2 separate regions of the Homo sapiens genome follow, and region 1 is linked to region 2. The links come from fine-mapping of genetic effects on gene expression. A gene starts in region 2. The other region holds a variant in brackets. All regions are shown on one strand. Distances are from middle to middle.

Evidence for each region.
Region 1: its variant is fine-mapped to the expression of PDCD11 in whole blood (TOPMed, PIP above 0.99).

What each region holds. Positions count from the first base shown.
Region 1 is chr10:103,451,448-103,465,290 of GRCh38, reverse strand. It overlaps CALHM2 (calcium homeostasis modulator family member 2), which reads left to right and starts at 12,921. Exons shown (of 4, transcript NM_015916.5): 1 at 12,921-13,135. It overlaps CALHM1 (calcium homeostasis modulator 1), which reads left to right and starts at 6,391. Exons shown (of 2, transcript NM_001001412.4): 1 at 6,391-7,094; 2 at 9,544-12,051. The coding sequence starts at 6,540. The coding sequence ends at 10,029. LOC124902494 (a long non-coding RNA gene) reads right to left here and starts at 12,848. Exons shown (of 2, transcript XR_007062275.1): 1 at 12,055-12,848; 2 at 2,596-2,861. RefSeq lists enhancers at 6,381-6,540, 12,688-13,309, 13,310-13,843 and a silencer at 12,520-12,849. The variant G/A (reference allele first, on the strand shown) is at 9,472.
Region 2 is chr10:103,393,387-103,408,275 of GRCh38, reverse strand. PDCD11 (programmed cell death 11) reads right to left here and starts at 11,650. Exons shown (of 36, transcript NM_014976.2): 1 at 11,546-11,650; 2 at 9,748-9,860; 3 at 7,748-7,879; 4 at 4,991-5,158; 5 at 3,093-3,254; 6 at 2,168-2,291; 7 at 1,486-1,667. The coding sequence starts at 9,849. ATP5MK (ATP synthase membrane subunit k) reads left to right here and starts at 11,801. Exons shown (of 5, transcript NM_001206427.2): 1 at 11,801-11,867; 2 at 12,244-12,530. It overlaps MIR1307 (microRNA 1307), which reads left to right and starts at 13,875; the gene lies at 13,875-14,023. RefSeq lists enhancers at 10,164-10,664, 10,665-11,166, 11,824-12,073, 12,224-12,313, 11,706-12,538.

The DNA.
Region 1 (13,843 bases), 58 kb before region 2:
CCAGCACTTTGGGAGGCCGAGGCGGTTGGATCCCTTGAGGTCAAGAGTTTGAGACCAACCTGGCCAACATGGTGAAACCCCATCTCTACTAAAAATACAAAAATTAGCCAGGCGTGGTGGCGGGCACCTGTTGTCCCAGATACTTGAAAGGCTGAGACAAGAGAATCACTTGAACCCAGGAAGCCGAGGTTGCAGTGAGCTGAGATCACACCACTGCACTCCAGCCTTAGCGACAGAGTGAGACTCCATATCAAAAAAAAAAAAAAAGAAAGAAGGTAGTGGTGAGGTCTGAGGGGAGTGGGCGGGGCACAGAGGTCTGTTACACCTGGTGTCCATGGCCACCCTCAGAGAAGAATGGGAAGATGGTAAAGGATGAGGGTAGATTCTGCACCAGAACTCAGGCACAAGGCCCCAGCCTCCCTGGCACAGAGGCTGAGAATTATAAGGGAACACGTGAATGACTTGGTGAGTGCTACCATTTTGCCACAGCATACACCCCCATAGGGTTTGGCTGATGAAGGAGAACGTAGCATTTTATCTTTCTCAGGTAGAGACTTCATACCTCTGATAACCCAGCCTACCAGCACCTGAGATGCCTTGGCAGCCACATTTGCTGTTGGCTCCTGCCTCCTCCACTGCCCCAATCTCTGGACGCACCCCACACTCACACTCTCCTACGCAAATTGGGCATTTTCCTAAAAGTACGGCACCCACTGTCCACAGGAGCCTCCTTTGCATGCTGCTTTTCATGACACCCCTAACTCCTCCAAACCAGAGGGCACTCACCAGCTGTGCCCTCTGGGTGCTTGGACAACAGCCCCAAGGCCAGGAAGCAGGAGGCGAGTGTACATCCCACAGTGGTGACCATGGCTGAGTTTGCCACCATGCTCCAAAATGTGTGTGACATCCTGCTTTTTATTTATTTAGTCGTGACCTGGGAGTTATAGGGAAGAGATGGAGAAGACTAAGCACTGATAAATGCACCACCAAAGACCCCTACTGAAGTTAAACAGAACCATGGGCCCCCAAGAGTCCACCTCCTAATGTCTAGAACCTGTGAATATGTTACCTTCCATGGCAAAAAGGGCTTTGCAGATGTGATTAAATTATGGATTTTGAGATGAGGAAATGATCCTGGATTAGCCAGGTGGGTCCTGCATGTCCTTATAAGAGAGAGGTAGGGCCCGGCACGGTGGCTCACTCCTGTAATCCTAGCCCTTTGTGAGGCTGAGAGGGGAGGATCACCTGAGGTCAGGGGTTCGAGACAAGCCTGGCCAACATGGTGAAAACCCGTCTCTACTAAAAATACAAAATTAGCCAGGCATGGTGATGCACGCCTGTAGTCCCAGCTACTAGGGAGGCTGAGGCAGGAGAATCACTTGATCCCAGGAGTCGGAGGTTGCAGTGAGCTGAGATCACATCACTGCACTCCAGCCTGGGTGACAGAGTGACTCCATCTCAAAAAAAAAAAAAGAGAGAGAGAGAGAGAGAGGTAGGAGGAGGGTGAGAGTCAGAGAAGGAGCTGTGATGAGGGAAGCAGAGGTTGGAGGAATGCGATGTCACAAGCCAGGGAATGTGGGTGTCCTCTACACAGTAGAGAATACGAGGAAATGGATTCTCTTCTAGAGCGTCCAGAAGGAACAGCCTGCCAGCCACTTGATGTTAGTCAGCCAAGATCCATTACAGGCTCCTGACCTTAGAACTACAAGAAAAAAAAATTCATGTTGTTTTAAGCCACTGTATTTGTGGACATTTGTTACAGCAGTTAATAGAAAACTAATACAGATTTTGAAAATGCACTACTGAAGCTCAGGTGCAGAGATGATCACTATTATTATTACAATGTTGTAAAGATGGTTCACGACCACTCCTTGTGTGCCTGGCGCACTGCGAAACTCTTGACCTGCACAGCTGATTGAATCTTCACAACCACCTGGGAGGCAGGCGCTATCATTCTCCCCATTTCACGGATGAGAACGCTGCAGCACCCAGAGGTTAGATGACTTGCCCAAGGTCCCTGGCTAGTGTGTGGCCAGACTGAGACTTGAACCCAGATCACTGGTTGGGTTGCTCTTAGCTCTGTGACATGGCTTTTTTTTTTTTTTTTTTTTTTTTTGAGAGGGAGTCTTGCTCTGTCGCCCAGGCAGTGGCATGATCTCAGCTCACTGCAACCTCCGCTTCCTGGGTTCAAGCGATTCTCCTGCCTCAGCCTCCCGAGTAGCTGGAATTACAGGTACACACCACCACACCTGGCTAATTTTTTTTTTTTTTTTGTATCTTTAGTAGAGACGGGGTTTCACCATGTTGGTCAGGCTGGTCTCGAACTCCTGACCTCAAATGATCTGCCTGTTTCAGCCTCCCAAAGTGCTGGGATTACAGGTGTGAGCCACTGCACCTGGCCAGCTTCTTGGTAAGAGAAAAATTTGACCATCGAGTGGAAGAAACAAGGAGTGAGCAGGTGGAGCCGGGATGTGGCTTTGGATGGGCAGTGAGGCACGACCGTGTTCCAGGAGAGCAGCAGCGTGAGGGAAGGGTGGTGCCTGGGAGCCCAGGGGTGTCCCTGTGTCCAACAGCTTGGGCCACAGTAACAAAACATACCACAGACAACAAACATTTATTTCTCACAGTTCAGGAGGCTGCAAGTCTGAGATGAGTGTACCTGAGGCTGGGTTCTGCCTTCTCACTGTATCCTTGCAGAGTGGAGGTCCAGGGTCCAGGGTCCCTTCTATAAGGGCACCAATTCCATTCACGAGGGCTCCACCCTCATGGCCTAATCACCTCCCACAGGAGGTGTATCCATGATGACGTTGATATACAACACTGGGCCACAGTGAGGGAACTAGGAGACATCCATGGGATGCCTGGTGAAAAAAACAAAAAGATTACTATTTCTTTATCTTATATAATTATGATAGGAAAAAATGAAATATAAAGTATTAGGAAAGACTTGTGTAAAACATCCAAATGAAACCTCCTAAACTTCTCAAAATGAGAAATGAGCTTGCTTTCGTGAGCACTTTTTAATATGAGGTGTTTTTTTGCATGAAATGACCACAGGCAATTCCTATTCGAGGCTCTTTATTTTATTTATTTATTTATATTTCTGAGACAGAGTCTCGCTCTGTCACCCACACTGGAGTGCAGTGGCATGATCTTGGCTCACTGCAACCTCCATCTCCTGGGTTCAAGTGATTCTCCTGCCTCAGCCTCCTGAGTAGCTGGGATTACAGGTGCCCGCCACCACACCCAGCTAATTTTTGTATTTTTAGTAGAGATGGGGTTTCACCATGTTGGCCAGGCTGGTCTCGAACTCCTGACCTCAGGTGATCCTCCCGCCTCGGCCTCCCAAAGTGTTGGGATTATAGGTGTGAGCCACCACACCCAGCCATTTTTGTATTTTTAGTAGAGACGAGGTTTCACCATGTTGGCCAGGCTGGTCTGGAACTCCTGATCTCAAGTGATCCGCCCATCTCGGTGTCCCAGTGTGCTAGGATTTCAGGCATGAGCCACACCACTCCCAGCTCATCAGGTCTTTTTTTTTTTTTTTTTTTTTTTTGAGATATAGGAGTCTCACTCTGTCACCCAGGCTGGAGTGCAATGGCGCGATCTCGGCTCACTGCAACCTCTGTCTCCTGGGTTCAAGCGATACTCCTGCCTCAGACTCTCGAGTAGCTAGGACTACAAGCGTGCGCCACCACGCCCGGCTAAGTTTTTGTATTTTTAGTACAGACAGGGTTTCTTGATCTCCTGACCTTGTGCTCTGCCCACCTCAGCCTCCCAAAGTGCTGGGATTATGGGTGTGAGCCACCGCACCCGCCCTCATGAAGGCTCTTTAATGATGATTTCTTCAAATGTTGGATAAACACCACCCACAAAAAAACTTACCCCAAGTAGGTGATAATTTTTTTTTTGAGACAAGGAAAAAATACAAAAATTAGCCGGGCATGGTGATGCACACCTATAGTCCCAGCTGCTCAGGAGCCTGAAGTGGGAGGATGGCTTGGAGGTAGAGGTTATAGTGAGCTGAGATCATGCCACTGCACAGCAGGCTGGGTGACAGAGTGAGACCCTGTCTCAAAAAAAAGAATTAACCCTCACTCTTCACTCTCACTGACAACTGTAACACATTTTTTTTTCAGGCATAGAGACTGGGTCTCTCTATGTTGCCCAGGCTGGTCTTAAACTCCTGGGCTCAAGCAATCCTCCCTCCGTGGCCTCCCAAAGTGTTGGGATTACAGCTGTGAGCCACAGTGCCCACCCTGCAACCAAAATTCTTATGATAATGATTGATTGAGAATCTAATCAAACTATTATTATTATTATTATTATTATTATTATTTATTTAGAGACAAGGTCTTGCTCTGTCATCCAGACTGGAATGCAGTATTGTGATCATGGCTCACCACAGCCTCAAACTCCTGGGTTCAAGTGATCCTCCCACCTTGGCCTCCCAAAAGTGCTGGGATTACAGGTTTAAGCCACTGTGCCCAGCCTCAAGTATTTTAAAATAACACTGCGCTTAGAATTTGCAGAATGTGTATATGTGGTTAGAGCACGCAGTATGGGCACTACTAGAAAGGCACATTATCTACAAACAGGGAGCTGTGTGCAATATACAAGACAGAATTCCAGGTGGCCCCCTGAAACCACTCCTCCTGGTTTCCTGGACCACCCCAAGCCCACCCCAGCTCTGGCATCAGCTCACACCTGCTGTTGGCCATGCACGCAAACACTGCAGGAGACGTGCAGGGTAGGTCGCCTCCATCACTGGACCTCCCTCATCCTGCCATCCACCTATAGTGTTCCCTGGGGAGCCTCTGCAAGGGTCTTCCGGAGGCTACCAGCCTGGGGGCTCCATTTGCCCCAAGCCCAGCCTGACAGCAAGAGGAGCAACATCCTTCCCCACTGTATCCTATTGGTGACACTCCAGCATCTCCACCCAGACCAGCAGAACAGGAGCCTGATTTGCCCAGAAGAGAAAGGCCAAAAAACATTTCCTGACCCCTCCTCCACCCCCCACTCCCAGCCCCACGAGAGAGCTAGCCTGGGTTCCAGTCCCACTCCTCCACCTACAAGCTGGGTAACTCTCAGCTGATAACTTAACCTCTCCAAGCCTCAGTCCCCATCTCTGTAAAATGGGGATGGCAGTACCTGTCCCATAGGATTGTAAGAAGATTACACAGGCAATGCATGTAAGTGCCTGCCATGGGGCTCCACCCAGGGCAAGCCTGGGTCAATGCTGGTTCTGGTCAGTGATACAGAGACCCTCAGACACAAAGATCACTAACGTGGTCACACACACACACGGATACACAGATGCAGAGGCCCAAAGGCACAGTGAGCTCACATGTGGGCACACACATGGGGAGGCACAGATCTGTGGGCCCCATGGGGATGTCCTGGCCAGGCTCTGTCTCAGCCCCAGACCCCACCCCTTTCCCCAGACAGGAGCCCCCCGGCTGGAGCTGGATCTGACCTGCCCTTGGGAGGTCAGGGAGAGCCCTGGGCATCAGAGCGAGCATGCTCAGCTCCTCCTCTTTGATGTGTCTGTGGAGGAGGGCTGGCCAGGTTTCTGCAGGCACTCTGGAGGCCCAAACTCCAGGCATGAAACCCCATCACCCCACCCATTTAATTTTTTCACCCCCTTGCTGTCAGCATGCAGACCCCTTTATTTTTTGATTGGGGAAGTAGAGGTCGGAGGTGGAGCCAGGAAAGGGTTTGCCATCCACAGCCCACAAACACACAGGCACACCCACAGAGACACAGGCAGGCTGACACAAGGACCCCTGCAGCACACTCACAGGCCACAGCCCCTGCCCAGGCAACTTATCAAATTCAAGTCCTCTGCCAGCAAATCCAGGATGTTTCATTCTACGCCACGTCCACATTAGCACCATCCCCTGCACCACCACTGCCATCCCCTCTGTGGCTAGTATCCCCACGACCACCAGCAGCACCCTCACTGCAGCCACCACCACCGCAGCACCACACCGTCATCGGGGAACTGATGGAGGAGCCCTCTAGGATTCTGATACAGCATGGAGGAGACCCCCAGTGGGAAGGGCAAAAGGAGGGCGATGAGCTTCCTAGGAGCCCAGAAGACAAGGTCCAGGACCTCAGGCCCCTGCAGCAGCCCTGGACTCTCCAAACTCCAGCCCTGCTGGAGACAGTGTCTTCCCAGTCTGTGTCTGAGCCTTCTCTCCCGCCCCTCCCTCCCTCCCTCCCACACCCACAGAAAGCTGGTCTCTAGCAGGTGCTAGCGCCGGAGGTGGAGGCGGCTGCAGAGAGAGAGAAGCCCAGGAGGGAGGGGCACAGCCCTGGCTGAACCCACAGGATTGGTCAATCTGCATCCTCTCAGCCAGCACCTGACTAAAGATTCCTCAAAGCGACAGTGACCTCAGCCTCTGCTCTGAGCTCTGTTGGTCCCAGCCAGGAGAGCCCGAGTCATGAGGTGGGCACCCAGTGGGCAGGGTGGGCAGCAGGGGCCCTCTTGGAGGCAGCAGTGAGTTGGGAAGAGGAGGCCGGGCCCCACAGCGGGCATGATGGACAAGTTCCGGATGATCTTCCAGTTCCTGCAGTCCAACCAGGAGTCCTTCATGAATGGCATCTGTGGCATCATGGCCCTGGCCAGTGCCCAGATGTACTCGGCCTTCGACTTCAACTGCCCCTGCCTGCCGGGCTACAATGCAGCCTACAGCGCGGGCATCCTGCTGGCGCCACCCCTGGTGCTCTTTCTGCTTGGCCTGGTCATGAACAACAACGTGTCCATGCTGGCCGAAGAGTGGAAGCGGCCGCTGGGCCGCCGGGCCAAGGACCCCGCTGTGTTGCGCTACATGTTCTGCTCCATGGCCCAGCGCGCCCTCATCGCGCCTGTCGTCTGGGTGGCCGTCACGCTACTCGACGGCAAATGCTTCCTCTGTGCCTTCTGCACTGCCGTGCCCGTGAGCGCACTGGGCAACGGCAGCCTGGCACCCGGCCTTCCTGCCCCCGAGCTCGCCCGCCTGCTGGCCCGGGTGCCCTGCCCTGAGATCTACGATGGCGACTGGCTGTTGGCCCGAGAGGTGGCCGTGCGTTACCTCCGCTGCATCTCCCAGGTGAGGGGCCGCATGGCTTCACGCTGGGTCTCCCTGGCAGATCAAGGTCCCTCTGGGAGGGCCCTATCCCCCTACCTCTCAAAATGGGGCCTCTGCTCAGGTGGAGCTCCGAGGTGTGGGGGGCATCTTCCCAACTGAGGCTGAAGGCAGAGCCACGCATCTGCCCTCAGCCCAGGGCCATCCGGAGAACGTGCTTTGGCTCCCTCTGTCCAGAGGCTTCTGGTGAGTGGGCCTGACCCCTATCCTGAGGTCCCCAGAGTGGACCTGCATCCCCATCCTGATTTCTGAGCTTGGAAGCTGGAGGAATTTGCATGCTTTCCCTCTTCCGGGCCTCGGCAGTGGTGAGGCCAGTGGGTGGCTAGGCCATTTGGGTACATTTCCCTAGCAAATGCCCCCATCTGGTGCTTCCCTGCTGGGGAGTGGGAGCTGAGGACCAGGGTGTCCTGGAAGGGGGTGCATGGGTGAGAGAGAGGAGGCCCTGTTGGGATGTGATGGAAAGGCAGTTTGGAGAGACCACTGACGGGTCAGCCAGAGTGAGGGTCCTCCCCAGCCCTACTCCCACATCCTCTGCCCCTCCATGCTCACCCATCCAAGCCTCTCGGGCCTTCTCCAACCCAGTCAGTGCCGTGTGGGGAGGACCACCCAGGCAGCCTGCCCTCACAGCTGGCAGACCAGGTGCTGTCAGGGCGAGGGGCTGGGGCCAGCCTGCTCTGCAAGGACTGGAGAAACGTGCACACTCTGCCCTGGCAAGTCCAGACACCCCTGGCTTCCCACTCTAGCAGGGGCCTCTCTCCTGGGAGGCCTCTGTCACCACCCAGATGACCTTGGTGAATGTCATGCTCTAAGCATCCCGACTGAACTCTACTTCCCTCTCCTCCCTAACCTGTGCCTCCTCTCCTGTGGGCACTCATCCCATCGTCCCCGGCCTCAGGGCCTTGGCAGCTGTCATTCCACCTGACCTTTAAGCCACCACATCATAAGCTGAGAGGGCCCCAGAGGCCACAGGCTGCCTGGCCTATACATGTTTCATTTGGCCTTCAGAGACTGAATTCTAGATTCAACTTTAGAATTTGTTGGCATCTTCTAAAAACCAGAATGGGCCGGGTACGATGTGCCTCATGTCTGTAATCCCAGCACTTTGGGAGGCCAAGGCAAGAAGATTGCTAGAGCCCAGGAGTTCAAGACCAGCCTAGGGAATATAGTGAGACCCTGTCTCCAAAAAAGAAAAGAAAAGAAAAAAATTAGCCAGGCTTGGTGGCACATGCCTGTAGTCCCAGCTACACAGGAAGCTGAAGTGAGAGGATTGCTTGAGCCTGGGAGGTCAAGGCTGCAGTGAAATGTAATTGTGCCACTGCACTCTGGCTTGGGTAACGGAGTAAGACCTGTCTCAAAACAAAAAAGTAAATAAGATTAAAATAAAAATCGGAATTTTTCACATAAAAATCAGATTTTCAAGTTGGAAATCCAGAAAATCCAGCCCCACCAGGCCCGCGTGTACTCCTGGAACAGGCTGGGGTGCCCCCAGCCTATGCACATGCTCAGTGGCTCCCCACCCCGTGTGCTCTGTCACGACCTGCCTGGCCCCATAGGCATCTGGGCTTGCCCTCAGCCCCAGTCCTGATCTGCCCAAGTGCTTCTCTGTGCGGCTGGGGCCTAACCCTGAAGCGTGGGCCAGGGGAGCATCCTGCCCCGTGCCCTGCAGTGAGGTGACAGAGCAGAGCTGGAACCAAGCGCAGGGTGCTCTTCAGCGCAGAGTTTGATTTCTTGCCTGATTCGCCTCTATGACCCCTGAAGGCCCAGCTCAGAACCGACACAGAGGAGGTGCTCATTTGGCACTGGTGACAATACTAGGAGCCAAAGGAGAGGTTCAGGACTCAGAGGAAAATGGGCCACTATGGCCTGGGGAGATCAAGGAAGGCTTCCTGAAAGAAGAGGCACAGTAAGTAAGTGAGGGCCTATTGGCACAACAGTAATGGTTAATAGTCACTGAGCACTGGGTACCAGGCACTGCACTAAGCTTATCACATTCAGTCCTCACAACAACACTCTGAGATAGGTGCTACCACCAGCTGCTTTATAGGTGTGGAAACTGAGGCACAGAGAAGTTGAGTGCTTTGCTCCTGGTCAACTAGTAAATAGTGGAGACAGCATTCAAACCCAAGCAGCCTAACTCCAGGGTCTGCCCACTTAACTCCTGGGCCCTGGGTGCCCCGCCAGCACGGTGGGTGCTTTACCCACGTGATCTTCTTTCCATGAGGTGCACCTATCTCCATTATTTCAATTTCTATGCCCATTTTACAGATGAGGAAATGGAGGCCAAGAGGCAAGCTCACTTGCCCAATTTGTGCTCTTTGCCCTAGAGGCACTGGCATAGAGA[G/A]TGCTTTGGGAGTCTGAACAGGCTCGGAGGCCCAAGGACAGTGCCCCGTGACTCTCTCTCATCTTCCCACAGGCGCTGGGCTGGTCCTTCGTGCTGCTGACCACTCTGCTGGCATTCGTGGTGCGCTCTGTGCGGCCCTGCTTCACGCAGGCCGCCTTCCTCAAGAGCAAGTACTGGTCCCACTATATCGACATCGAGCGCAAGCTCTTCGACGAGACGTGCACGGAGCACGCCAAAGCCTTTGCCAAGGTCTGCATCCAGCAGTTCTTCGAGGCCATGAACCATGACCTGGAGCTGGGTCACACCCACGGGACACTGGCCACGGCCCCTGCTTCCGCAGCTGCCCCCACGACCCCCGATGGTGCGGAGGAGGAAAGGGAGAAGCTGCGTGGCATCACGGATCAAGGCACCATGAACAGGCTGCTCACGAGCTGGCACAAATGCAAACCGCCTCTGCGGCTGGGCCAGGAGGAGCCACCGCTGATGGGCAACGGCTGGGCTGGGGGTGGGCCCCGGCCTCCGCGTAAGGAGGTGGCCACCTACTTCAGCAAAGTGTGAGGTGTGGCCAGCTGAAGAGGCAGGAACGGGGATCTGAGCCCACAGCCCCTCCAACCCCCAAACCAGGTGGAAAAAGGAAGGGTTTCAGTGCTGGGCAGTACTCCCCTAGGCAGATCCACACTCCCTAGCACTCGCCTGCCCATTGGAGGCAGGAAATTTGGAGCTGGAAGGGGATCTGATGCCTTCAGGTGTGACACTGCCCTGGATGGCCCTAGGGCAGTGGGCCCATGAGCAGTATTAGTCTAAAGGGGTCGGAACTGTCATGGCAGGTACAGGGACCAATGGCTCCCCTCTGCCCAGCCCTTCCCAGGCTGATGTTCACTGTCTCCTCCCAGGTTCAACAGACATCCCTGCCCCAGGGTCCACCCTCGTCTGTGGCTGTTCAGTACCTCTCTTCCTTTATGCTCCGGGCTCGGGGAGTGGGAATCATCAGGCGTCTCATGAAGTGGGAGCCCTCTGATTTGGGCAAGCGTGTCGTAGGTGAGACTGGGTGTGCCGGGGCAGGTCCATAAGGACATGACACACAGCCTACCTGGTGTGACACACCTGGGGTGACAGGCGATGAGACAAGATGTCAGAAGCTAGGTTCACATGGAAGAGGTCAGAGTGTGTGGTCACCATGGGGGTCATGTGACAATTGTCCAGGTGGACTGCATGTTTATTTAGCACAAACCAAGCACAAAAGTCCTCCTGTAGAGGGGTCTTTGAAAAACCACCTTAATACCCCCGTCACATCCAGGTCTCCAGGGGAAATCAGACCATCCCCAAGGCTTGAGAAGTTAGACACAGAAGCTGAAGTCTCTCCATTTTTCTCAAAGACCCCACCTCTTGGGGATGGAGTTCTAAGAGGCTAAGAGGAGCTCCAAGGCTCTAGCCCAGGTGGGATGAGGGTGGAGGAGAGCAGTGTAAAGAGAAAGCAGCTCAGATTCCAGAGTGAGACAGAACTGGGTCAAATGGTGTCTCTACCACTCACAAACCCTGTCCCTGGGCCAGCTGCATCACTGCCTGTGCCTTCGTTTCTTCATCTATACAATGAGGATGAGGCCCCCCCGGCCCGCCATCATGGGGTTGCTGTGTGTAAAAGCACATGGCACATAGTAGGCACCCAGCACAGGGTGGCTAATGTATTTGTTGATTTCTGAACCTAAGGACTTCCTTCCTCCTCCCCTGGGCAGGGATGAGACAGCAACACAAACACTCGAGCTTCCATCTTGTTGAGGAGGAAACAGAGGTACAGATAGGTTTCTCAGCACCGCCCTCAGCTCTGAGACATAAGTCCCAAGCATCTAAGGATTCATTTTGATCTTGGCATGATTCCATCCTTTTTTATCCATCCTTCCCTCTATTCCCACTTCTGGGGTCCAGTTTCCCTCCTCTTAATTATTTGGGAGGAGTTGCTCAGATCTTTGTGGGCCAAGGTGGGCTGGGAGGGCTCTTCCAGGAGGTAGGAGTTGGTATGGGCCCTGAAGTCAGGGAGGATTAGGATGAGCAAAAAACAAGGTGTATGTTGGTGGGTGGCAGCACTTCCAGTGGGAAGAGAAGGCCCGGAGGTATCAGGAGGTACAAATGTGATGAAGAGCAAAGCTTTGGGTCAGGCACACCTGAGTTCAAATACCAGCACTGCAGGACTTGTGGCCAGTCACCCAGCCACTCTAAGCCTCAGTGTGTCTGTCTATAAAATGGATATTAGAAGACCTGCTTGGCCAGGCGGAGTGGCTCATGCCTGTAATCCCAGCACTTGGGAGGCCAAGGAGGGAGGATCACTTGAGCCTGGGAGTTGGAGACCAGCCTGGGCAACATAGCAAGACTCTGTCTCTGTAAAGTAATAATAATAATAAGAAGAAGAAGAAGAATAAAGAGAAGATTTATAATTTTTTTAAAATGAAAAAATTATTTTTTAAAAAAGACCTGATTTTCAGGATTGTGGTAAGGATAGAGGAAGATAACTTTTAGGGAAGGATCTGGGACTGTGTTTAGCACATGCTGGGATCTGAAACAAACAAATAAACAAGCAGAACTTGGTACCTTTTCTTTCCTTCGTACATATGGTCAAGCCCAGCTCAGGGAGGCCAGCGGGTCACTCGGCAGCTCCACCATGACGGAACCACGAGCACTGCAGAGCTGACAGATGTCGGGGGTCCTCTCCCTCCATGCTAAGGGTCATCTAGCCTGTCCGTAGACTCTCCTGTGCAGCATTCCTGACCCGTGACGCTTCAGCCCGCATCTTGACCACTTTTAGATACAGGCTGGGCAGCTCTGATTATTACACAGGGCTTCCTTCAGAAACCTGCCTCCTTGTAACTTTCACCCACCAGTTGGAGCTCTGCCTGCAGGACCCGGAGAATCCCTAGGCTCCTGAATTCAATCCTCAGCCCTCCAGGGATCCGAAGCAGGTCCCGGGGAGTTAGCTGACTATAGGTCAAAGAGTCAGCATTGGGGATGGTTTGTCCAGTCAATGGACAACTCTGAGGGAGAAGGGCCAGTAGAGGGTGGGGCCCTGGCCCTGAGCATCCTGCAGGGCTCAGCGCGGGCCTGACGACACCCTCCCTTGACCCTCGCGGGGTCTCCTTTGGTAGCTTCTGCCCAGCGGGGGTCAAGTACGTGGGGTGCTCTTGAAACTGTCATGGGGGGCAGGTCTGGGTCAGATCTCCCCAATGCCTCCACATCCCCACGTGGCCCTCCCGACTGGTCCCATTGGTGTGGAGCATGGCCCGGTCCGGGTCTGGGCCGAGGGCGGAGGGCCAGCACGGCCCAGGGACGGCGAGCAGCGGGTCGGTGGGACGCGCAGCAGCTGCAGAACAGGCATCTCAACTTCCTCTCGGCTCCTCTCCTCTCGCGCCGCCCTCGGGGCCCGCCCTCCTCTGCCTGGTGGCGCCGGGAGGCTGTTTTTCCACTCACTGGCGCGCAGACTCCATCCCACTGTTTTCTTCTCTCTTTTCTGGAGTTAGATTAGTCTGAAGCCGCCACCAGCCCCAGGCCCCCGTGCAGAAGAAAAGCGGGAGGGAACGGCGGAGGCCGCCGCTGCCCTGCACCGCCCTCCTGGAGGCCACTTGGAGAGTCCGGCCCCGAGGAGGCCATGGCCACAAGTGCCCACAGCTGGCCCCAGGTAAGGAAGGGGCCCTCCCTGGGGTGTGCCAGGTGTCAGCGGAGCATGGTGGGGCCTGTCCCACGCTGCCCAGAGGGAGAGAGGCCCCTAGCTGAGGTTCCCTCCACCCGGTTGAACAGGGAGCAGTCCTGCCCCTCCCCGAGCCGCCAGTCTCCTGTCGTCACTGATGTTGGAGGAGGTCCCACTGGGGGTCTGGATGTGACCCATCCTTGGCCTGGGGGCAGTGGTCTCAGAAGATGGCCTGGCCCATCCTCTGCTCACCACCCACCCTGTGCAGGTATCTTGTACCCCACTTTGAGCCAGTTTATGAACCCAGGGCCTCCACAGGGAGCTAATTAGGAGCCTAGAAGCCAAGAAGGGAAAAGGATGGGGCAAAGGGGGCTGACTTTAACCCATTCTTCCCCAGCAGTGATGCAAACTGCCTTTCCCAGGAAGTTAGGCTGGAAGCTCCAGGCTGTGAAGTGGGGGAAGAATCAGACTCCTCCTCCTCCTCCTCCTCCTCCTCCTCCTCCTGTTGTTCCTCCTGGTCCTCCTCCTCCAGCTTCTCCTTTTCTTGGAGTCTGCATGGCCACATGGCTCTGCCTGAGCCCATCTGGCAGCCTTCCTTGGCAGGGACAGAAGGGGTGATCTAGAAGGGGTGATCCCTCCATGAAGCATGGAAGGGAACAGGGCTAGGTCTGTGTTTGGCGCTCACCCCATCCCTCCACT
Region 2 (14,889 bases):
CTAGGATACCGGCTATGCAGGAGCCCTACAGAGCAACTAGTCCATCCTAGAGCACAAGGACATTAAAAAGGGTTCTAGGTGGGAGGAAAAAGAAACTAGTAGTTTACTTAAAGGGTTTGAAAACATGCAGAATTGTAATAAGTGGAAAATAAGTTGAAGGTATAGGAAAAAATACTGATAGGAAGAGAATTTCGCAAATGACAAAAACAAAGCTGACTGCCAACTCCAAGGGAAAAAAGCTGTTCAAGGTCATAGTAGGCCAGGTGTGGTGGCTCACACCTGTAATCACGGCATTTTGGAAGGCCCAGGCAGGCAGATCACTTAAGGTCAGGATTTTGACACAAGCCTGGCCAACATGGTGAAACCCTGTCTCTACTAAAAACACAAAAACCAGCCGGGTGTGGTGGTGTATGCCTGTAGTCCCAGCTACTCGGGAGGCTGAGGCAGGGGGATCGCTTGAATCCGGGAGGCAGAGGTTGCAGTGACCCGAGATCACGCCACTGCATGCCAGCCTGGGCAACAGGGCGAGCCTCCGTCTCAAAAAAAAAAAGAAAGTCATGCTAGTATGCTGGGTGAGGTCACTCATGCCTGTAATCCCAGCACTTTGGGAGGCCAGGGTGGGAGGATCACTAGAGCTCAGGAGTTCAACACCAGCCTGGGCAACAGAGTAAGACTTCACCTCTATAAAATATATATATTTTGTTTGTTTGTTTGAGACGGAGTCTCGCACAGTCGCCCAGGCTGGAATGCAGTGGCACAATCTTGGCTCACTGCAAGCTCCACCTCCTGGGTTCACGCCATTCTCCTGCCTCAGCCTCCCGAGTAGCTGGGACTACAGGTACCCGCCACCACACCCAGCTAATTTTTTGTATTTTTAGCAGAGACGGGGTTTCACCGTGTTAGCCAAGATGGTCTCGATCTCCTGACCTCGTGATCAGCCTGCCTCGGCCTCCAAAGTGCTAGGAAAATATATATATTTTTTAATTAAAAAAAGAGAGACCAAAATCTTTTCTACCTTGATAAAAAGTTAAAACTCAATGCCTAAGATGGAAAAATCAAGAGATACCAGCAGAAGCTTATTACTCAAAAATATGGAGAGAAATTTCAAAAGATAAGCTAAAAGAGTTAAAGATGGGGGTTATGACGGATAAGTTCTTCATTATAAACCTTTTAATTCCATTTGACCTTTCAGATCAGCACTGTCCAACAGAAATACAATGTCAGTCACACAAGTAATTTTAAGTTTTCTAGCAGTCACATTTTAGAAACTACAAAGAAACAAAAGACTTTTTAGTATAGTTTTTTAACCTAATATATCCAAAATATTATCATTTCAACATGTGGCACTGGCCACATTTGAAATGCTCAATGGGCGTAAGTGACTAGTGACTACCTTTATCAGACAGTAGTTTTAGACTTTATGCATTTAATATTTTGAAAAGAATTATTTTTATTTTAAAAAGTAGTAGTAGCATAACAGCTTACCTTCTGTACCTGAGCTTTGACCACCAGTCCTGGTAGCAAGTTATTAAGGTTCCAGCTCTGCTGTTCAGTAGCAATGGCCGTAGAAACCTCTGAGTGACCAACAGACAGACTAACAACTCCTCCGTTGCCTTTCACCTTTTCAACAATGCAGTTCAGGTACTGACCCACCTTTAGTTTAGCACCTGTAAGCCCAGACCCAGGCCCCAAAAGGAAAAATGTATCTATGAGAAGGACTTTTAACGTGGGCCCAAGTAATACCTGAAAAGACCCATGGCCTACCTGCCCAGTTAGCATCAGTTACTCCCCAAATTCCCAATCTTTAAGGGGCCAACTACAAGAAGGAAACGAAGTTATCCTAATTGATCTGGAATTCAATTACCACACAAAAATACACAAGCCAGGAGACTGCTGGTTCAGAAGCCATGGGGGCCCTAATTGCAGTGGAATCTTCCAGGTTAGAAAAACTGACACTGTTCCATCAGATCTTAGTGAGACCTTACCACTCGCTGGCCCTTCATACATCTTTCCTTTCCTATTAACTAGGATTAAGTGCTGGTTTTACCAAAGCCACAGCACCTTCAGGGTCACCATTCTGTCATGTTACTCATCAAAATGGCACTTAAATATAATCCCCACATGTACCACCTCACCACCATGTACTGGCCCCTTTTCTTGCCCTCACCTTTGTTCTTCTGTCTGATGTACTCCTGGGCTTTCAGCAGTGGCAGAAAAGCTCTGGTCCCATCAACACCAATGTCCACTAGGTAGCCATGGTCTTCCAGGCTGGATACGGTACCTGTAAGTAGCTGGGGAAGAGAAAGTAGTCCCAGAAGTTCCAATTCAAAGGTAATGGGACACACACAAAACATCCAAACTTGAATGTTCCTGCCACTAAGCTCACACTCTGCCACTATCCCACTCCCACATTAAACCTTAAGCCACAATCCCACTAGACAGCAGACATCAAATTCAACACTCCCAGGCTTGAAGGAGCTGATGGTTGCCAGGCAATGAGGAATGTTTAACACAGCTGAATGATGGAACAATATAGAAGAGTCTCTTGCCTCAAGTGGTTTCAAAAGATAGCAAACTTTCGGCAGGGCACAGTGGCTCATGCCTGTAATCCCAGCATTTTGGAAGGCTGAGGCAGGCAGATCACTTGAGGTCAAGAGTTTGAGACCAGCCTGGCCAACATGGTGAAATCCCGTCTCTATTAAAAATACAAAAATTAGCTGGGCATGGCACCTGTAATCCCTGCCTCAGGAGGTTGAGGCAGAAGAATTGCTTAAACCCAGGAGGTGGAGGCTGTGGTGAGCCGAGATCATGCCACTGCTTTCTAGCCTGGGCAACAACAGCGAAACTCCGACTCAAAAAAAAAAAAGAAATTTGGACTTGCTTTCTCTTTTCTCTTCTCCAATGTAATGATTAGGTTCAAGTCTTCAATGTCCATTAAGTGCCCAAAGAACCCAAGAGACCTTCCTTCCAGAAAAAGAACCACTCCTATGTGTCACAATTGAGCTGAAAGTAAAAGGTGGCCTAGACCACGCTCCCTCAGAGGCAGAGAGAAGGCACATTGCCACTCTTCCTCCCCGACCCTAGACACCTACCATGCCAGGCTTCAGGGCCTCAGCACTCAGCACTCTGTTGACATTTTTGGGGTTCAGAGACAGCTTGACACTCTTCTTGCCCCTGTCTGTGATGCCCAGACTGCTCACCACACATCTTACCAGCATTCCAGGTGAGAAAAGTTCAGGCAAGTGAAGTAGGTCCTGCATAACACAAATGAGAAAGACCTGATATACACCCTTCTCCTGAACCAAAAATCCATTACCCAGCTTTGGCTCAGTGACTTCTCATCCTCAGACCCCAGAGAACCCAAAAGGTGGGTGAGGAATAACCCCCCATCCACAAAGGAAGTTGGGTCTGTGGCCTAGCCACAGTCTTGAATTTCAGCATAAGGCCTTCAAATATTTCCACATAACTGGCATGTAAAATGACTTGTCAAAAGAGTTGTCTACACTTTCTGCCTCTACTTCATCCCTTACTCATTCTTCGGCTCACTGCAATCTGCTTTCCACCCCTCTCACTCCACCACTCTATCTCCCATAGAATCACCAATGAGTTCCATATTGTTAAATCCAGTGGTCAGTTTTGCAGTCTATCTCTTACATGACCATTAAAAAGCACTTGAGGGTCGGGTGTGGTGGCTCATGCCTGTAATCCCAGCACTTAGGGAGGCCAAGGCGGGCAGATCACCTGACGTCAGGAGTTTGAGACCAGCCTGGCCAACATGGTAAAACCCTGTCTCTACTAAAAATACAAAAATTAGCTGGGTGTGGTGACATCTGCCTGTAATCCCAGCTACTCAGGAGGCTGAGGCAGGAGAATTGCTTGAATCTGGGAGCTGGAGGTTGCAGTGAGCTGAGATCATGTCACTGCACTCCAGCCTGGGCTAAAGAGTGAGACTCCATCTCAAAAACAAACAAACAAACAAAAATCATAGGTCAGGCATGATGGCTCACACCTATAATCCCAACACTCTGGGAGGCCGAGGCGGGTGGATCATTTGAGGTCAGGAGTTAGAGACCAGCCTGGCCAACATGGTGAAGCCCTGTCTCTACCGAAAATACAAAAATTAGCTGGGTGTGGTGGCTGGCACCTGTAATCCCAGCTACTGGGGAGGCTGAGGCAGGAGAATCACTTGAACCCAGGAGATGGAGGTTTCAGTGAGCTGAGATCATGCCACTGCACTCCAGCCTGGGCAACAGAGTGAGACTCTGTCTCAAAAACTGAAAAATCATGATCATCTCTCCCAATCCAGGTCCCCTTCAGGGTTTCCTATCTCAGGATGTCATGACCAAGCATCAAATCATGCAAAACAGAAACCTAGAACTCAGCCCTGACACCTCTATCTGCCCCACCACCCATATTGAATCTATCACCAAGCAATGACTTTGCCTCCTCAGTCCTCAGGAAATCCTGAACCCAGGTCACCATCAATCTCAGGACGTGAACGACTACAAGAGCCTCCTAACTTGTCTCTAAGCAACTTCTCATGCCTCTTCAATCTACACGTTATGCTGTACCCCAGTGAGAACATTTCAAGGACTTCCCATTGATTCTAGAATTTAAAAACAACCCTTAAAATGGTCTACAAGGCTGCATGTGCCCTGGCCCCCATTCAGGCTCTCCTGCCCATCTCACATCACACTCTCTCTTGCTCTCCTTACCTAGCCATACTAGCCTTCTCTCTGTTATATATTACATTGCTTCTGCCTGAACGCCTTTCCTTCTTTATCTAGGGAACCCTCATTCTTTAGATCTCAGCTTAAGCATCCCTTCCTCAACAGTCTTCCAGGCTCCCAGACTTAGTCAAAAATTCCTTTATGATAAACTCTCACGGGACCTTGTACTTTCCCTTCTTAGCACCTGGCAAAGTTGTAATTTTAAATCTATTTGTGTTCCACTTATTTTCAATAACAGGCTTCATTCGGATTTCCCTTACCTTCAGAGGTTGTTCTTGTGTCACCTGCTCATTCAGCTTTTTGGTGTAGGCATCACAGATTTCAGTGACTTGCACAAAGCCCTGGAGGCCATTGGGGAGACTAATCACCAGTTCCAGTTCATTCACCTCTTTCACGCAACCCAAAATACGCATTCCCTCACACAGGGACTAGAAGAGAAAAAGTGAAATGTGTACAATAAGGATGGGAACAACAATAGGGAAGGTTGGAAGGTCTGGCTTCTAGTGTCAATTTAAAAGCTATAAGGCCAAGCACAGTGGCTTACGCCCTATAATTCCAATACTTTGGGTGGCCAAGGCAGGAGGACTGCCTGGGCTCAGGAGTTTCAGACCAGCCTGGGCAACGTAGTTTCTCCAAAAAAAAAGATTAGCCAGGCATAGTGGTACACGCCTGTAGTCGCAGGTACTCGGAGGTGAGTGGATCGCTTGAGCCAGGAGGTTGAGTCTGCAGTGAGCTGTGATCACACCACTGCACTCCAGCCTTGGCAACAAAGTGACACCCTATCTCAAAAAATAAAGATAAAAAATAGGCCGGGTACAGTGGCTCATGCCTGTAGTCCCAGCACTTTGGGAGGCTGAGGCGGGTGGATCACCTGAGGTCAGGAGTTCGAGAGCAGCCTGGCCAACACGGCAAAACCCCGTCTCTACTAAAAATACAAAAATTAGCCGGGCATGGTGGCAGGTGCCTGTAATTCCAGCTACTCAGGAGGCTGAGGCAGGAGAATCACCTGAACCTGGGAGGTGGAGGTTGCAATGAACTGAGATCATGCCACTGCACTCCAGCCTGGGCAACAAGAGTGAAACTCTGTCTCGAAAATAAAAAAATAAAAATAAATAAAAAATAAAAACCTACAGGAATTTTATAAATGAAAAGAAATACACATGTGTACATATCAGTGAACTTCTCAAATATCTGACCGAGCACTGTAAAAGGTCTAGATTATACAACAGTGTTAACAGCACTGGGATACTGGAGGACACCTTTGCCTTTTACATTATTCTGAGCAACCCAAACTCAAATGCCTGGCAGACAACACAATGAAGGAAGCCAGCTAGTGGAGACAATGGCAGTCTGGAGTGACCATGCCAGGTCTAAAGGACACAACCACTACTCAGCTCCTTGTCATTACAAACATGAGGGAATACGGGCCTTCTGCTATCAGTACTTTCAAATTTTTACAAGAAGCCAGAAATCATATTTTCATGTAAAAAAATTTTTAGTTTTCAGCCAGGTGCAGTGGCTCACGCCTGTAATCCCAGCACTTTGGGAGGCGGAGGCGGGCAGATTACAAGGTCAGGATATTGAGACCATCCTGGCTAACATGGTAAAGCCCCGTCTCTACCAAAAATACAAAAACTTAGCTGGGCGTGGTGGCGGGCGCCTGTAGTCCCAGCTACTCAGGAGGCTGAGGCAGGAGAATGGCGAGAACCCGGGAGGCGGAGCTTGCAGTGAGCAGAGCAGAGATGGCACCACGGCACTCCAGCCTGGGCGACTGTGCGAGACTCCGTCTCAAAAAAAAAAAAAATTTTAGTTTTCTAATGTTGGCACCAAGTCTAACAATTTTTTTAAAGTATCATATAGGACAAAATATTGACTCTGAATCTAGCCAAATATGAATGTTCCTCTTCAAAGTTATTTAACTTCTTTTCTTTTTTATAACTAACACATATTGGTGTTATCATCTAAAAATGTAAGGCAGGCTGGCCGCGGTGGCTCACGCCTGTGATTCCAGCACTTTGGGAGGCCAAGGCAGGCAGATCACGAGGTCAGGAGTTCCAGACCAGCCTGACCAACATGGTGAAACCCCGTCTCTATTAAAAATACAAAAATTAGCCAGGCGTGGTGAGACACCTGTAATCCCAGCTACTCAGGAGGCTGAGGCAGGAGAATCGCTTGAACCCGGGAGGCAGAGGTTGCAGTGAGCTGAGATCACATCACTGCACTCCAGACTGCGCAACAGAGAGAGATTCCGTCTCAAAATAAATAAATAAATAAAATAAAATAATTTCAAAATTAAAAAATAAAAAATAAAAATGTAAGGAACACAGACCACTTCAATTCTTGGAAATGGGTTTCACATCTATGAAATGAATGGGTAAGATGAGAATGACTGCTAAAGTTACTGTCCATTCTAACCTCTGAATATATCAGAACTCAAGTCCTGTGAGGACACAAACAAGCCCACGACAGCTTTAAAGGAAAAAAAGGGGGCAGGCACGGTGGGTAGCTCATGTCTATAATCCCAACACTTCGGGAGGTTGAGGCAGGAGGATTGCTTGAGCACAGGAGTTCGAGACCAACCTGGGCAAAATAGCAAGATCCAAGCCCTACAAAAGATTTAAAAATTAGCTGGGCATGGTGACACACACCTTTAGTAGTCCCAATTTCTCAGGAGAAGCTGAGGCAGGAAGATTGCTTGAGCCCAGGAGTTCAAGACTAAAGTGAGCTATGATCATGCCTGCATTCCAGCCTGAGCAACAGAGTCAGGCCTGTCTCTGGAAAATAATAAATAAATACAAAGAAAAAGAAAAGATTCCTGGCATCGGTTAGCAATGGAAGGAAATCATGCTTACTCCTTAGCATAAATTCCAAGCATCTCTACACACACACGCATGAAATATAATATATTAAGGGGAAAATGGAATTAAGGGAAAAAAGAAGGAAAGAAGAAAAAAAGAACATACACAAACTTAAGCAACCAAGGTCGATTGTTTAAATGAAAACCAACTTTAACAAACCTCAACACTAAGGATTTCAAACTTCTCTCTTGCGGACTTGCTGCTTTCTCTCTTTTCGATTTTCAACTTTTTTGTTTTTGCTGGCCCCTTCTGGCTCTTTTTTCTTTTGGTGGATCCCTCTTCAGTAGAAATCTAGAAGCGGGTAGGGGGAGCCCACAAAGACCCAAAAGAATAAGAAGCAATCTGAGTTTTCCCTCCTATTTCAGGTCATCACTCACCTTGCTTTGTTACTCCTTCACTCCACCCTACCCCATCCCACTCCCAATTGTTCCTTTAATTCTTGCTTAAAAAAAAAAAAAAAAGGGGGGGGGCCGCCAATGTTCCCTCTGCCCAAGGTCTGAGAAGCCTCCTTCATGTTCCCAAAGTCTCTTCTCTCTTGTGTTCTCCCTCTCTTGACTGGGATGAACACTGGGTTCCCCAGTTTGAGAAGCAATGTAGAATAGTGCATGAAAATGGACACCAGAGTTACACAGACCCAAGTTAAATTCTCATCTTTTCCACCATAACAAGCTATGTGGTTTCAGCTAAATTATATAAAATCCAGGCACAGTGGCTCACACCAGTAATCCCAACACTTTGGGAGGCCAAGGCGGGAAGATCACTTGAGATTAGGAGTTCAAGACCAGCCTGGCCAACAGGCTGTATTTTTTTTTCCACTAAAAATACAAAAAAATTAAGCCGAGCATGGCAGCACGCACCTATAGTCCCAGGTACTCGGGAGGCTGATACAGGAGAATTGCTTGAACCAAGAAGTGGAGGTTGCAGTGAGCTGAGATCACAACACTGCACTTCAGCCTGGGCGACAGAGCAAGACACTGTTCCTCATCATGGAATTGCAATCAGTGCTTCACAGTACAGTTGAAAAGATTACATAATACAGACCTAAAGCCACACACTCAAATGTTAGTTCCCTTTCCCCAAGCATTTGGAGCACAGCCTAGTCTAGGTGAGACTGTGAAGTCTAATGCAAATTCTGACCATTACATGTGGCAAGGAACCCCTGTAAAAATGCAATGATCAGTCAGACACAGTGGAACATGCCTGTTGTTCCAGTTACTCAGGAGGCTAAGGAGGGAGGATCGACTGAGCCCAGGAGTTTAAGTCCAGCCTGAGTAACAGAGTGAAACATCATCTCTCCCCATCTCTTGAAAAAACAACAACAAAAATAACAAAAACATCAGCTGGGTGCAGTGGCTCACACCTGCCATCCCAGCACTTTGGGAGGTCAAGGTGAGCAGATCATCTGAGGTCAGGAGTTTCAGACCAGCCTGGCCAACATGGTGAAACCCCATCTCTAACAAAAATACAAAAATTAGTCAGGTATGGTAGCAGGCACCTGTAATCCCAGCTACTCACGCCACTGCACTTCAGCATGGGCAACAGAGTAAGACTTCGTCTCAAAAAAAAAAAAAAAAAAAAAACTGCTTCCTCTCCATCCTTAATCAACATGGCACATGGCAAAGAGTGTCTAAGAACAAGGAACAGCACTTTATTTATTTTGTTTGTGTGTTTTTTGAGACAGAGTCTCACTCTGTCGCCCAGGCAGGAGAGCAGTGGCACAATATTGGGTCAGTGCAACCTCCACCTTCTTGGTTCAAGCAATTCTCATGCCTCAGCCTCCCAAGTAGCTAGGACTACAGGTATACTACCATGCCCAGCTAGTTTTGGTATTAGTATAGACGGGGTTTCACCATGTTGGCCAGGCTGCTCTTGAATTCCTAGCCTCAAGTGATCCGCCTGCCTCGGCTTCCCAAACTGCTGGGATTACAGGCATGAGCCACTACGCCCAGCTAATAACAGTACTTTAATACTAAATGCCAAGCTTCAAAAGATACAGCCTTGTGGTGGTATGGCCTCTCTAAATGAGTTAAATTTATAGAAGTAGACTTCAATGCAAAAAAAATCTGGAAAAATAACACATTCTCAAATAAGGCTCATTTTTCACAAGACACTACAGTAAAAGTTTCCAGTGAGTGTCACCAAACAAGCATACTACTTACATCAAATAAGTTGTCTTGTTCAACTGACTGCTGGAAAGCTTTCTCTGGTTTGTGGATCTTTCTTGTACCTCCTCGGGGGAAGCTTTCTTCCAGGTTTGCCATGTTTGGGTCTCCTAAAAACAATGCAAAGGATAATGGTGACATGTTGTCTTGGTAGCAGATTTCAGAAAGGTGTTATCAACGGGCAAGAGACAGAACGTTCCAGCAATATGCTAGACAACATTCAGGACTACAACATAGATGGTTTAGATGTCAGGCCCGGAATAATCCATACTTCATCTTTCCAAAGGTCTCTGCTTCAAAACCACAAGTCCACCCACCTTCTTCCAGAAAAAGAAGTTATAGATTCAATGTAGCACATACTCACTAAGAAGCTACAGTTAAGTCAGAGATACACTGTAGCTCTACAGATGAATATATAATCCTCTGCCTTCAAAGAACATGCACACTTTTTGGAAGATAAAACAATTATGCAAGTAACTTAAAATGCAAATCAGATTATAAATGATCACAAAGATGTAGGAAGGGATAAGGCAATGTAGGAAGGGATAAGTAAAGGAGGCAAGCTTCATAAAGAAGATCTTTTTTAGCTTAAGGGTAAAAGATGAACAGAAGCTTGACAGGTAGAAAGGGAATGTGAGAAAAGACATGGATGGGAAAAGCCTATTATTTCAATAAACACCAGCAATTTCCCTATCAAACAACTGCTCAAAGGCTTGCTGTTGTCTCTGAGGAATTATTCAACTAGACCACTGGGAGATTAAAGCATAAAAATTGAAGTTAAATTTTAAAGAAGGCCGGGCACCATGGCTCACACCTGTAATGCCAGCACTTCGGGAGCCCGAGGCGCGTGGATCATCTGAGGTCAGGAGTTCGAGACCAGCATAGTCAACATGGCGAAACCCCGTCTCTACCAAAAACGCAAAAATTAGCCGGGCGTGGTGGCCTGCGCCTAGTCCCAGCTACTAGGCAGGCTGAAGCGTGAGAATTGCTTGAGGCCGGGAGGCGGAGGTTGCAGTGAGCTGAGATCATGCCGCCGCACTCCAACCTGGGAGACAAAGTGAGACTCTGTCTCAAAAAAATTAAAGGAGAAGTTGGGCTTTTTTGTGGAAGACCTTGAATTAGATATGGGTAGTTTGCTTTGGCAAGTCAGAGACTTAAGCAGGGAAAGCGAGAGAACAGTAAGCAAGAAAAATATACTGCAGGCTATAGATTGGACATGAAGAGAGACAGTATTGAAGGCAAGTAAATTCGGTAGAAGGATTCAAATGCACTGTTTCCTGTTATCTCAGTGACAGAAAAAAAAAAAAAAAAAAAGGATTCAAATGCAGTACAGCAGAGAAACCATGAGAACCAGAACTGGGTATAAGTGAAAACAGAAGACAGGAGAGGTTAGTTCTGACAGACACTTGGTAATAAGACTCTACAAGGGCTTTAGACTAAAGAAGTGATGACCGGGTGGGGCCAAGGATATGGAATCAGGGATGGGTATATGATTCATAGAAACAGGAAAGTTTGGGGGGTCTAGTTTGCTGATAATTTCACCCTTAATTTCCTTTCAAGCAAGGGGAAACTGAGGCTCTGAAAAGTAAGGCGATCCAGGGGCACAGAAGATACTTAGGCTACTTTCCGAACACAAAGCCTGGGGTTACAGGGGCTGCTACAACAGAGCCGGCTTCGAAGCGGGGCTAAGGTGGCCGAACCACACTCATCTAGCGTGTGCCTGGCAGGGAACCAGGCCTGGGACAGACCTGACAGCCATGAGGTTTCCTCCTTTTTCGCCTCTGCCTTTACTCACCAGCGCCACGGCGTCTGCACCCAGCTACCACTAACCTCGCGCCGCGGTACTCACACACGCGGAGACCAGGATACCCACAGTCCAGTGCAATTCTTCCGGAAGTGTGGGCGGGCTCAACACCCTACTTCCGTTGCTGTGTTGCGGAGGTGACCTAGAGACAGGAATCGGAAGGGCGGGATTTGGAGCCATAGCCAATCGTCGCATTAGGCCGAATCGCGGGGGCCGGCTAAACGCGTGCGGGGGAGGTGGCTTCTTCCGGCCGGGCCGAGAGGTGGTTACATTCGTTGAAGGACACCAGCTGCGGAATTTGCGGCTTTGGCAGGTGGGTGAAGAGGGGAGTCCGGGCTTGGACCTGGCGCCTGCACGTTGCAGGACCGCCCGCCGTTTCTGGCCGAGGAGCAACTCGAGTTCTTAGCTTTGGAGGAGAGAAACGGTGGGGAATGGGAAAGGAGCTAGAAAAAACGAGGGGCGCAAGGGGGCGGCCAGCGGGTGAGAAGCCTCGAGGTGAGGCGGATAGGTGCGCCCAAGGGCTCCCACAGTTTCCGAAGACCCTTAGATTGCATTCGCCAGTGGAGAAAAATGAGGCCCTCCGCGAAGCGTCCCTCGAGGTCACCCAGTGACGTAATATTGGACGAGGACTAGGGCTTCTGATCCCCATCACCGGCCGAATTAACCTCTTTTCTTCTGTATGTCCATAGCTGTTTGTTCCCACCGAGCTGTGCTTTAGGAAGCTGGCCAGCCGGGCCTCCTTTAGGTGCGCTGCAGCCTTTTTCAAAGCGAGTGAATGTGGCCCGGCCCCTACAGTTCGCCAGGCCCGCTGTAAAAGGGTTAGATTTCAGTCTATAGACGATCAGTGGGAAGGCCTTTCCTAGGAGGTAACCAGAACAGAGAGCTGTAAACTCCGTGAATGCAAGAGGCTGCTTCTGTTACCTGAGTGGTTCTCACTCATCTTTGCCTTCCTTACCTCGTGATCTCACCATTCCAGGTAGGTGTTAAGTTAGAAAGGAAAATAGCAATATCGAGGAACAGAGAAAGTAACAAGAGCTACTGGTCACTTTGGACCTTTAATAAAGTGCCCATCTCACAGGTGGAGAGAGGCACGGAAGGATTAGTTACATTTAAGAGCAGTTAGTGGCCGGGCGCGGTGGCTCACGCCTGTAATCCCAGCACTTTGGGAGGCCGAGGCGGGTAGATCACCTGAGGTCCAGAGTTCGAGACCAGCCTGAGTAGTATGGTGAAACCCCGTCCCTACCAACAATACAAAAATTAGCCGGGCGTGGTGGCGCGCGCCTGTAGTTCCAGCTACTCGGGAGGCTGAGGCAGGAGAACCGCTTGACCCCGGGAAGCGGAGATTGCAGTGAGCTGAGATCGCGCCACTGCACTCCAGCCTGGACGACAGAGCGAGACCTTGTCTCAAGAAGGGCAGTTAGCAACTTAATTAAAACATACCACCGTTTAACAACATTAAATCACAACTAGGAGTCTTACAAAGGGCACTGTAAACACAAGGGTTCCTTTATCTTTGCCCTAAAGTAACCTGCACCGTGCTGAAGAGTGCAGAACCAAATTTTTCGACCTTACTCCATTATCTCACCAGCAACAATCCCGTTCCCCATTTGGCCCTCCATTTGAGCCTCTCAAGAGTCCTCCTCCTTTAAGACCCAGACTAACTTGAGTGATTGATTTCAGTTCTTGAACCATGCACTTCCCTGCAATCAGAATTAGTCTTCTGTGGGATATCACAAAACATCAGCCTTCCTCCCATATTGTGTGTAAATTAAAGGGAAATTTAAAGCGCTGTAGTATTGTTGGGCATATCCTCCTAAAAAGTTTAGTTAGATGTAATGTAGTGGAGGTTTTCGTTAATGGTCAAAGTGAAGCCCTTATTTTCTGTAGCGTTTCTCCTAAAAACCTACTTCAAACCCTAAGAAGTGAATCCAAAAATGTATCATGAAATGAATGGAGCTGGTGGGGGGGCGGGGGGCGGGGGGAAGTATGTCTTTAGTAAGTTTAGTAAAGTGGAACAGTTGATAGCTACATTATAAAGTTGCTTTTATCGCTTCTGTTGGCTAAGATCAAGTGTATAAAGTTATTTTTAATGGAGATTTTCCTACTTGGGCTAGACTGGCCAAGGTCTCTGAAGAGGCCTAAGGAAGTTTGGATTTCCTTCATTGCTCCAAGAACCTTCTTGAAACTTGAAAATTAAGGTCATTTTTCTCAAATTTTCATTGCCAATTCTTTACACAAGAATGCCTCTGAAAGCCTTTGAATGGGGGAGTTCCAGTTTCCATAGTAATGACTCCCTGACAGATATCTCCCTCTTCCATTTCATCAAGACCCAGCTGAGTCACTGTCACTGCCTACCAATCTCGACCGGACCTCGACCGGCTCGTCTGTGTTGCCAATCGACTCGGCGTGGCGTCGGTCGTGGTAGATAGGCGGTCATGCATACGAATTTTCAGCTCTTGTTCTGGTGACCTTTTGAATACGTCTTGTCTATAAAAGAAATTCATGCCTTTGTAAAATACACAGGTACTATAGATTAAGCTGCCTTTGCTATATATTCTTCCAGAGTTTTTTTTAATACACTTACTATTTTTCTATTTCATTTACTGCAGTATTTTTCAAACTTTAGCATGCTTTAGAATTATCTAGAAGCCTTATTAAAATAGATTCCTGGACCCAGAGTTTCTGATTCAATAGGTAGGGCCTAAGAATTTGCACTAACAAGTTTCCAGTGATGCTAATGCTGCTGGTCTAGGGACAAGACCCAGAACCATTGACGTGCTTTATAAAATCCAGAAATAAGATTTTTTCTTACAAAATTGAACGTTACTTGGGACATCTTCCCATGTCAGTACACAAAGATCTGTGCCTGTTGTGTGTCGTTTAATGGAAACCATCATTTTTTAATCAGTCTTCTATAGATGGACTTTTAAGATTTTCATAAACAGTATTTCATTGACCATCTTTGAACCACACAATGTGTTTCCACTTTGTAATATTTCAATAAGGGTAAATTCCTGGAGAAAAACACCAGCTAGATGAAAGGGTATACTCATTTTATAATTCGATAAGATACTGCCAACTTGCACTTTCTGAAGGTTGTACCAGTTTATTTATTTTTTATTTATTTATTTTTTTTTTTTTTGAGACGGCGTCTCGCTCTGTCGCCCAGGCTGGAGTGCAGTGGCGCAATCTAGGCTCACTGCAAGCTCCGCCTCCCAGGTTCATGCCATTCTCCTGCCTCAGCCTCCCGAGTAGCTGGGACTACAGGCGCCCACCACCACGCCCGGCTAATTTTTTGTATTTTTAGTAGAGACAGGGTTTCACCGTGTTAGCCA